Homo sapiens: one gene and its partners. The protein of the gene in region 1 purifies or fractionates together with the protein of each later gene. This does not show direct contact. Each region holds a gene or a part of one and is shown in the gene's direction. Other genes may lie near its edges.

Region 1 (3,659 bases):
CGCTCCTAAGTCTCTTCTGTTAATCTTTTGAGTGACAGAGGCTTAAGGATTGGCATCTTTTCCAGCTGGCTTTCTAGGAAACCAAGAGCATGCCCTTTCAGTTTAACTTTATCTGGCTCACTAATTGAGCTCCCCCGAGGCCTAGACCCCAGTCCTCGCCCCCTTATTTGCTTCCTGCCTTCCTTCATAAAATTCTTGACATTTGTTTGACTCTGGAAACCAGCGGCTATCGAGTATCAGATTGGAGGCTATTATGTAGGAAGCACCTGATTTTGGGGTCTCTCAACTGTGAGTGGTTGCTTGGCTAGCTGGGACGTTGGTCAGGATTCTTTTAATCACTGAGGAGGCAGCCGTTTCTTTAATCCTGCACAATTTACTGAAAATGTTTCAGGGGAGGATGGGATGGGGGAGGGGCTCTCCCTGGCTGATGGTGTCTGGCCGATGGTCAAGCCAACTGCCTGTCTTTGTTAAATTCTGTGTCTCCCTTGAAGATGGAAAGCTGGGTGAAGGCAGGAACTGTTTCTGTCTTGTCCAGGGATTTATCTCCAGAGCTCAGCAAGGGGCCAGACACCTGTCAAGATTTACTTTGTTGGTACTGATGGAATGAACAAATAAATGCAGATAATGTGTGTTTGAGAGTGATTACAGGTTCCACTTTGACTGGAGGCAGGAACTAGATTTAAGAAGTGTGAGAAATAGGAGATGATGCGAAGATCAAGAGGTCTGAGTCAGAAATGGATTTTTATTTTTTAAATTTGACAGATAGCATTGTATGTATTTATTGTGCACAATATGATGTTTTGAAGTATATATACATTATGAAATAGTTAAATCTAGCTAATTAATGATAGCATTACCTCGCATAATTATTATTTTTGTGGTGAGAGCACTTAACATCCACTCTTTGCATTTTTCAAGGATACAATAACTTGTCATTAACTATAGTCACTTTGAATAGATCTCTTGAATTTATTACTCCTCTCTAACTATAATTATGTACCCTTTGACCAACCTCTCTCCTTTCCCTCTCCCCTCTTCCTTCCTCAGCCTCTGGTAACCACTGTTCTACTTTCTACTTCTATGAGACCAATTTTTTTAGATTCCACATATGAGTGAGATTATGCAGTATCTGTCCTTCTGTGGCTGGCTTACTTTTCTTAACGTCCTCCAGGTTCATCTACATTGTTGCAAATGACAGGACTTCATTCTTTTCTGTGGCTGAATAGTATTCCTTGTGTATATATACCATATTTTCTCTATCCATTCATCCACTGATAGACAATTAGGTTGATTTCATATCCTGGCTATTGTGAACAATGCTGCAATAAACATGGGAGAACAGGTATTTCTTCAACATACTGATTTCATTTCCTTTGGATAAATGTCCAGCAGTGAGATTGCTGGATCATATGCTAGTTCTGCTTTAAATTTTTTGAGGAATGTTTTTACTGTTTCTCATGATGGCTGTACTAATTTATGTTCCCACCAACAGTATGTGAGAACTCCCTTTTCTCCATATCCTTACCAGCACTTGTTGTTTTTTGTCTTTTTGATAATAGCCATTCTAACTGGAGTGAGGTGGTATCTCATTGTGGTTTGAATGCATTTCCCTGATGATTAGTGATGTTGAGCATTTTTTTTTTTTTTTTTTTTTTTTTTTTGAGACGGAGTCTCGCTCTGTCGCCCAGGCCGGACTGCGGACTGCAGTGGCGCAATCTTGGCTCACTGCAAGCTCCGCTTCCCGGGTTCACGCCATTCTCCTGCCTCAGCCTCCCGAGTAGCTGGGACTACAGGCGCCCGCCACCGCGCCCGGCTAATTTTTTGTATTTTTAGTAGAGACGGGGTTTCACCTTGTTAGCCAGGATGGTCTCGATCTCCCGACCTCATGATCCACCCGCCTCGGCCTCCCAAAGTGTTGGGACTACAGGCGTGAGCCACCGCGCCCGGCCGAGCATTTTTAAATATACCTATTGCCCATTTCTATGTCTTCTTTTGAGAAATACCTATTCAGATCTTTTGCCCATTTTTTCATTGCATTGTTTTTTGTTTTTTTTGCTATTAAGTGATTTGAGTTCTCTGTGTACTTTGCATATTAACTCCTTATCAGATATACAGTTTGTGAATATGTTCTCCCATTCTCTAGGTTATCTCTTTACTTGGTTAATTGTTTTCCTTGGTGTGTAGAAGCTTTTTAGTTTGGTATAATTTCATTTGTCTATTTTTGCTTTTGTTGCTTGTGCTTTTGAGGTCCCCAAACCAAAGTCATGGAGCTTTCCCCCTATGTTTTCTTTTAATAGTGTCATAGTTTTGGATCTTACATTTAAGTCTTTAATTCATTTGAGTCAATTTTTGTATATGGTGAGAGATGAGGGTCTAATTTCATTCTTCTGCATGTGGATATCCAGTTTTCCTAACACCATTTATTGAAGATTTTCCTTTCCCCATTGTGTGTTCTTGGTACCTTTGTTGAAATCAGTTGTCTGTAAATGCGTGGATTTATTTTTGGGCTCTGTCTTCTGTTCCATTGGTCTATGTGTCTGTTTTTATGCCATTACCATGCTGTCTTGGTTCTATAGCTTTGTAGTTTATTTTGAAGTCATATAGTGTGATGCCTCTGGCTTTGTTCTTGTTACTTTTTACTTTGCTTTGGCTATTCAGGGTCTTTTGTGGTTCTACAAAAATTTTAGGGTTTTTTTTTCTATTTCTATGAAGAACATCTTAGTATTTTTATAGGGATTGCACTGAATCTGTAGATTGCTTTGGGAAGTATAGACATTTTCACAACATTTGCTCTTCCAATTCATGAACGTGACATCTCTTTCCATTCATTTGTGTATTCTTCAACCTGAAACTTATTTCTTAAATGTTTTAGATATTTGTTATTTCTTCTCTCACCTCTTGATCACTTGATTCATCCTTCAAAACCCAGTTCCAACATTACTCTCTAGGAACTTTTCTACAGAGCATTCTTTTTGCTTAGGAACGATTACTCTCTCCTTCGAACAACTTCTTTTTTTTTTTTTTTAAGGAAAATTTGTATTATTTTAATTATTTTTATGTACAGAAAACTCAACAGTGTACATTTAACCCAGTTTAGTGGCAAGTTCTTTAGCCTTTGCCTTTTTGCGCTTGGCGATACGAGCCACAGACTTAGGACCCAGGACATTGCCACCCCAGTGACGGCGGATCTCATCGTATCTGTCATTGTAATTGGTCCTGATAGCTTCCACCAGCTTAGCCAAAGCGCCTTTGTCTTCTGAGTTCACCTGTGTGAAGGCGACAGTGGTGCAGGTCTTCCTGTGGACTAGACGTCCCAGTCTTGCCTTCCCCTTGATAATGCAGTAAGGGACCCCCATTTTACGACATAGGGCAGGCAAGAAGACAACCAGCTCGATGGGATCCATGTCGTGTGAAATCACCACCAGCTGAGCTTTCTTGTTCTCCACCAAGGTGGTGACAGTGTTAACTCCTGCTCGAAGGACAGGTGGTCTCTTCTTCGGGACGTCCCCTTTGCCAGCAGCTTTCTTCTCGGCCCGGGCCAACAGTCTCTGCTTCTTCTCTTGCTTTGTCTCTGGCCTGTACTTGTGGGCCAGCTTAAGCAGCTGAGTAGCTGTTTGGCGGTCCAGGGCCTGGGTGAACTGGTTAATCGCAGGAGGCAC
Region 2 (3,659 bases), on another chromosome or scaffold:
TAGTTTAGAGTTGAGAACTAGGTAGAAATTGTTTGAAAAGATATGATGTTTCAGGAAGCATGTCACTTAGTGGAGATTGGATGTTTTGAAAAACATTATTTGCTTCATGCTACTTTTGGATCTCAAGTGTGTTTTATTTGACTCTTGAGCCTTTAGAGAACAAACCTTATTATTCTTTACTATATCAGATAGCCAAACTATTTAACCAAACTAGAATTGCTTTTAGTTGCATTTTCCTTGGTGACTGAGAGTTCCATATATTTTGTAAGTGTTTATACATAGAAGGAATGAATGTTTCTTAATGCAATGTTCTTTTCATTTTATCTGATTCCCTTCTGTCTCAGGTACAAACAGGTACTTCAGGCAAGTGGCATCTGAATTTGGATTAAAGATTTCTTTTGTTGATTGTTCCAAAATCAAATTACTAGAGGCAGCAATTACACCAGAAACCAAGGTAACTCAGCTCATTTTCAGTTTTGCCTGTTTTTCCTTCGATGTTTTGTTTTCATCATTTCTGTTTACTAGAGGATATAATTTAATGTGAATAACAAATTTTATTTTATGCCATTGGAAACATCAACAAAATTAAGATAGACTGTCATCTCCGGGGTGTTATAGCATAATGGTAGTACATGATTTCTGGAGTAGAATTCAAATTGTGATTCTGTTATCTTAGTTAGTATATTATCTTGGGCAAATTATTTAACCAAAGTCTCAGTTTCTTCATTTGCAAAATGGAGATAATTATACCGGTTTTATAGAAACGGGAGTGTGAGAATCAAATGAGATAATGAATATGAAATGCTTAGTATAGTTCCTGGATACATGGTAATTGTTAAAAAAATTTCTATGCAGGAGCACCTAATTTTTAACTGCATAGCCAAAAGAGTATTGGTAACAGAAGTCATCACAGAGATTGGACTATAGAAAAAGAAGCCTGCCAAACCCCCAAACTCGAAGCACAGTGGCTTTGCCGGGCTGTAAGGGATGCTGCCCAGATACTAGTTAGATGTGGAGAATAGGCCACAAGCAATCTTTAGCTTCCATCCTGGGAAATTTGTATGCCACCGGAAGGTGTTTTGTGTCTGAGTGAATGGCATATGTGATATTCTTTCTTGGGACCTTATTTAAATTCTGTGTGGATAAAAGAAGGACCAGTGTCTTTTATAAGTCAGCTGTTTACAACTTTTTGCTAATGATTAAAAGGTTAGAATTGTACCCAAGATTATGTTGCAATGAATGCTAAAAAATAAATATCTTTTCATGTACAAATAATTACTTTGCACATTAACATGGTTGAGCTTTTGGTAATTAAGGTTTGTTTCCAGAAGAACTTGTTTTTTATCTTGCTTGGGAGAAAAGTCACATTAAAATAGCTGGTCTGAGTCTTTTTTTTTTTTTTTTTTTTGAGACGGAGTCTCACCCTGTCACCCAGGCTGTAGTGCAATGGCGCAATCCCAGCTCACTGCAAGCTCTGCCTCTTGGGTTCAAATGATTCTCCTGCCTCAGCCTACCGAGTAGCTGGGATTACAGGCGCCCATCACCATGCTCAGCTAATTTTTGTATTTTTAGTAGAGATGGGGTTTCACCTTGTTGGCCAGGCTGATCTTGAACTCCTGACCTTGTGATCCGCCTGCCTCAGCCTCCCAAAGTGCTGCGATTACAGGCATGAGCCACCGTGCCGGGCCCTGGTCTGAATCTTTCTAAGGGAGGAAAGCAAATTATGAGTACAGTAAGTCTTGTCAACAGAATTTTATATAGTGACTCTACCAACTTGAATTAATACCTTTTCCTTCCTAAAATATCAGGTTTTTCACTTGAAGTAGAATGTTTAAGTCCATGTAAAACCTACTTTTTATTTATTTGGTAATTTTTATTTTTTTTATTATCAGTAGGAATAATAAATTCTTACCAGGAATAATTTTTATAGATTCTTTAAATAATTCAAGATTTTTGTAGAATATGTATTATTTAACCATCTTATCTTTTCCAGAGTAAAACTCTAAAGTCAGAAGAGTTTAAACCAGATCTCTTGCCCATTTAAATAACAGGTAATAAAAAAAGAATCAGCTGGGCACAGTGGCTCATGCCTGTAATACCAGCACTTTGGGAGGCTGAGGCAGGAGGATCACTTGAACCAGGAGTTCAAGATATATAGCGAGACCCTTTCTCTGCAAAAAAAAAAAAATAATAATAATAATTGGCCGAGCATGGTGGCACATGCCTGTAGTTCCAACTACTGGAGAGGCTGAGGTAGGAGGATCACTTGGGCCTGAAAGGTCGAAGCTGCCGTTAGCTGTGATCATGCCACTGCACTCTAGCCTGGGCAACAAAGTGAGACCCTGCTGCTTAAAAAAAAAAAAGAAAGTAATTCAGTACAATGGCATTTCGTTCAACAAATAGAATTCTTTTCTTTGGTCTTTTTGATAACTATCAAGCATCTACCATGTGTCTGAATTGTGGTAGGTTTTGAGATATAAAGGTCATTGTTACTTTTTAAGTAGGCGGTAACCACGTTTTCTGTTGTGGGTGTCACTTTTCTTCTTTAGTCTAAAGCCCATGCTCTTCAAGTCTTAGATACTTATTCTATAGTTTCTAGAGTTTCTGGCATTAAGTTCATATTAAATATATTTTTGGCATCATAGGGATAATTCTCTTTCATTAAAATTCTAGGATGTATTCTTACACAATCTATGTTATTCATCTCTGAGACAAAATTTCCAGACACTGAGCTGTCTTTGGAATACACTTTCTTTTTTAAGAAAAGTACAATAATTAACTTTAGTACTTTTCTGTTTACATGTACGTTATCTCACTTGATCTTTACAAAAAATTCTGTAAGATAGGTATTACCAACCCAATTATACAGATCAATAGGATACATTACATACCTACGGCTTCAGAAATTTGCAGGTAAGGCTGGGATTCAGATTTGAACCTCCCAACATCATCATCCATGTGTTTCCATTATACAATGTAGCTTCCCAGATTGTTACAATATATGAGATGTATGTTTGTAAAGTATATTTTTACAAACTACTGTTATTTGCTGAATTATTTTAGCTTGTTTGGATCGAAACCCCCACAAACCCCACCCAGAAGGTGATTGACATTGAAGGCTGTGCACATATTGTCCATAAGCATGGAGACATTATTTTGGTCGTGGATAACACTTTTATGTCACCATATTTCCAGGTAAATGAAAATAATTTTTTTTGGCACAATTAGTAGACCACATATATCTGTAATTAGGAAAGAAAGGACTTGCTTAAATTAAAATCATGATCAAATTCATGAAATCTAATCATAATTAATTATTTACTGGATCGAGAATTAAATTTGGACCTCTTCTACCATTAGTTAATATCTTTTCAAACCTATGTTAATATCCTCTATGTTACTTTGTGTTTTTTATTTATTAAAGCTTACCAGTTCTCAGGGCTGTGCGTGGTGGCTCACGCCTGTAATCCCAGCACTTTGGGAGGCCGAGGCGGGCGGATCAGGAGATCAGGGATCAAGACCATGGTGAAACCCCGTCTCTACTAAAAATACAAAAAATTAGCTGGGCGCAGTGGCGGGTGCCTGTAGTCCCAGCTACTCGGGAGGCTGAGGCAGGAGAATGGCATGAACCCGGGAGGCGGAGCTTGCAGTGAGCTGAG
Region 3 (3,659 bases), on another chromosome or scaffold:
ATTAGATAGATAGATATATAGATGCATAGATTAAATAGATGATAGATTAGAGAGATACATAGATAGATGAGAGATAGATAGATAGGATAGATAGATACACACATACATATAGATAGATAATGGTGATGATAGAGAGATAGATCAATCAGATAGATAGATACATAGATAGAATAGATACATACATATGTACGTACATAAATTAGATACATATATACATACATACATAGATTAGATAGGTAGATACATACATACATACATGGATAAATAGATTAGATAGATAGATACATAGATACATACATAGGTGCATTAATAGATTAGAGAGATAGATGATAGATTAGAGAGATACCTAGATAGATGAGCAATAGATAAGATAGATAGATATGTACATACATATAGATAGATGACAGATAGATAGATAGATAGATAGATAGATAGATAGATAGATAATGGTGATGATAGGTAATAGAGATAGATAGATACATACATAGATACATGGATACATAGATAGATAGATAGATAGATAGATAGATAGATAGATAGATAGATAGATAGATAGATCATACATACATACATACATACATACATACATAGATGCATAGATACATAGATACATGGATACATAGATGGATGACGGAGAGAGAGAGAGAGAGGAGAGATTCTCTATACTAAAAGCAGGATCTTTCCACGTCAACACTATAGACATTTGGGGCCGGGTGATTCTCTGTGGTGGGGCCATCCTGTGCAGTGTAAGGTATTGAGAAGCATCCCCGGGATCCACCCACCAGATGCCAGGAGCACCCCCACAGTTGCGACAACCAGAACTGTCCTCAGACATTACCCAGTGTGCCGTGATGAGAAAAATCACCCCTAGTTGAAACCACTGTCAAATGGTAGGCAGATAAATGATAGAGATGAGAGATAAATGCTAGAAAGGTATAGATAGATGACAGACAGAGAAGATTAATAAATAAATAGATATAGGTGCCAGAGAGCTAGATATGATATATAGATAAATTGATAAATGATAGATATGATAGATAGATATAGATGGATAGATAGTCACTAACAGAGACTCTCTCATGCTCAGGCAGGGTGTCAGCCTCAGCACTGCTGCCATGTAGGGCTGGAGGATTCTCTGTGTTGAGCCTATCCTGTGCACTGCAGGGCACTGAGCATCTTCCCAGGCTCCACCCACCACGCCCCAGGAGTACACCCTCCAGTTGTGACACCCCAAACTGCCCAAGATATAGACAAGCATCCCCACTGGAACAGAATCTCCCGCAATTCTGAACCACAGGGTGAGAGGCAGGCAAGATAAGACAAGATGATCCTTCCAGAGACCTGGAAGGAGAAGCAAGATCATGTCCCATCCCCCAGGTCTCAGGGAGAGAATGGGCTGGGTCAAGGGACTCTGGATCACTTCCTTCCATTTCTCCATCTCCCAATGTGCTGTATGCATGCTCTTGTTACTATAATAAAGTAAGTAGAATTGAAGAGACTCTGTCGTTACAAGCCACACATGTGTAGATTAAGCAGATATTCCCTGTGCAGGTCAGGTCTCAGGGGAAATGGAGGATTTATTCTCCACCTTTCCAAGACCAAGGGCCCCGCTGTGTGTACGTGTTATTCTCATCAAACATGCTTATCTGCCCGAGGACTAAATGCTGGCTTCCACATGTGACATTTTTACTTGCAAAACTGGATCAATGGGGAGCGTCATTTATACTGTCCCATGCAACAAAGGGAACTGAAAAAGTGCAGGAATGAGGAGACTCAAATCCACGCACATTCAGAGACTCCAATCCACACTCAAAGAGACTCAAATCCAACTCATTCAAAGAGACTCAAGTCCACACTCATTCAAAGAGACTCAAATCCACACTCATTCAAAGAGACTCAAACCCACACGCAATCAAAGAGACTCAAATCCATACTCATTCAAACAGACTCAAGTCCACTCATTCAGAGACTCAAACCTACACGAATTCAAAGAGACTCAAATCCACACTCATTCAAAGAGACTCAAGTCCACAATCATTCAAAGAGGCTCAAACCCACACGCATTCAAAGAGACTCAAATCCACACTCATTCAAAGAAACTCAAATCCACACTCATTCAAAGAGACTCAAATCCACACTCAATCCAAAGACCAGAGCCAGCCTCTTGGAAGCACTTGCTCCTCCGGGCTTCCCTGGGACGTTTAAAGTGGTTTTGAAGATGTCGTATGAGGATGAATGCAAGACTTTGAGTTCACACGGTGCTGACTGGCAGCGCCTGCTGCTCAGAGCTGTGATGGCCTCCTCAAGGGGCAGTTGTGCAGCAGTAGCTCTGATGGAATCTCCAGGAACCCACTCTCCAGCAAGGAGCCCTGTCACATGCATACCTGCATGAGCCTCTCAGCCAGTGGTTGAAATGGGCATGTTGCAGACAGCCTCTCTGTGAGATGCAATAGATGAAACCTGAGGCTCAGTGAAGCTGGAGGCCTCCCAGGCACTAGCTGCTCAGTGAAGGCGCTGTTGTCCATCTACAGTGTCCATATGTCCATCACAAGCTCTTGGCATGAACACAGGAAACTTCTAGGATACTCAGGCTATTACCCTGGGGTTGGAGGCATTCTGTCTCCAGGTATTTATTTATCACTCATCTGTTCTTGGGGTGGAGGAGAATGAGACTACTCCTGCACTCAGGACAGGGACAGACCAGCAGGTGGCCACACGTGGAATAGAAACAGGAGATACCCCTTCAGTCTCAGCCACAGGGAATGAATGAGCAGGGTCCCTGTAGGGGCTGTGACTTTGTAGATGAGAGACCAGAATAGATTAACATGGCCTCAGTACTGTTTGTTGGATGGTTGAATGGATGGCTGCATAAATAGATGGGTGAATGAATAAATGAATGAATGAGTGAATGAGTGGATTAGTACATTAGTGAGTGGATGGATGGATATGTAGACAGGTGAATGAAGAGTGGATGAATGGATGAATGGATGGATGGATGGATGGATGGATAGATGAGTAAATGGATAAGGAATGAATGAGTGGATGAATGAATGAATGAAGGGATGATTGGATGGATGAATGAATGAGTAGATGAATGAATAAATGGATGGATGGATGAACAGATGGATAGATAGGTGGATGAATAAGGAATAAATGATTGAATGAATAGATACATGAATGGGTGAATGATAGTGGGTGTATTGATAAATGGGTGGATGACTGAATGGATGGATTGAAGGATGAACGGATGGATGGATGAGTGGATGGATAAGGAATAAATGAATGAATGAATAGATAAATGAATGAGTGAATGAATGGATCATGAATAAATGAATGGGCAAATGAATAGTGGATGTATGGATAAGTGGATGGATAAACGGATGGATGGATGGATGGATAGATGAGTGGATGGATAAGGAATGAATAAGTGGATGAATGAATGAATGAGTAGATGAATGAATAAATAGATGGACGGATGAACAGATGGATAGGTAGGTGGATGGATAAGAAATGAATGAATAGGCTGGGCGCGGTGGCTCACGCCTGTAATCCCAGCACTTTGGGAGTCTGAGGTAGGCGGATCACCTGAGGTCAGGAATTTAAGACCAGCCTGGCCAGCGTGGTGAAACCCCGTCTCTACTAAAAAATACAAAAATTAG

Evidence for each region.
Region 2: the proteins of SMOC1 (region 1) and CTH purify together in Homo sapiens (affinity purification with mass spectrometry; one large-scale study listed by BioGRID and IntAct). This does not show direct contact.
Region 3: the proteins of SMOC1 (region 1) and P2RY8 purify together in Homo sapiens (co-immunoprecipitation; one large-scale study listed by IntAct). This does not show direct contact.

The regions. Positions count from the first base shown.
Region 1 is NC_000014.9:69,882,257-69,885,915, forward strand, and holds part of SMOC1 (SPARC-related modular calcium-binding protein 1 isoform 1 precursor), read left to right. Parts: intron 1-3,025; exon of another isoform or gene 3,026-3,659. UniProt on the Homo sapiens protein: Plays essential roles in both eye and limb development. Probable regulator of osteoblast differentiation.
Region 2 is NC_000001.11:70,421,222-70,424,880, forward strand, and holds part of CTH (cystathionine gamma-lyase), read left to right. Parts: intron 1-344; coding exon 345-454; intron 455-1,912; exon of another isoform or gene 1,913-2,051; intron 2,052-3,063; coding exon 3,064-3,195; intron 3,196-3,659. UniProt on the Homo sapiens protein: Catalyzes the last step in the trans-sulfuration pathway from L-methionine to L-cysteine in a pyridoxal-5'-phosphate (PLP)-dependent manner, which consists on cleaving the L,L-cystathionine molecule into L-cysteine, ammonia and 2-oxobutanoate.
Region 3 is NC_000023.11:1,527,057-1,530,715, reverse strand, and holds part of P2RY8 (S-geranylgeranyl-glutathione receptor P2RY8), read left to right. Parts: intron 1-3,659. UniProt on the Homo sapiens protein: G protein-coupled receptor for S-geranylgeranyl-glutathione (GGG), an endogenous metabolite present in lymphoid tissues.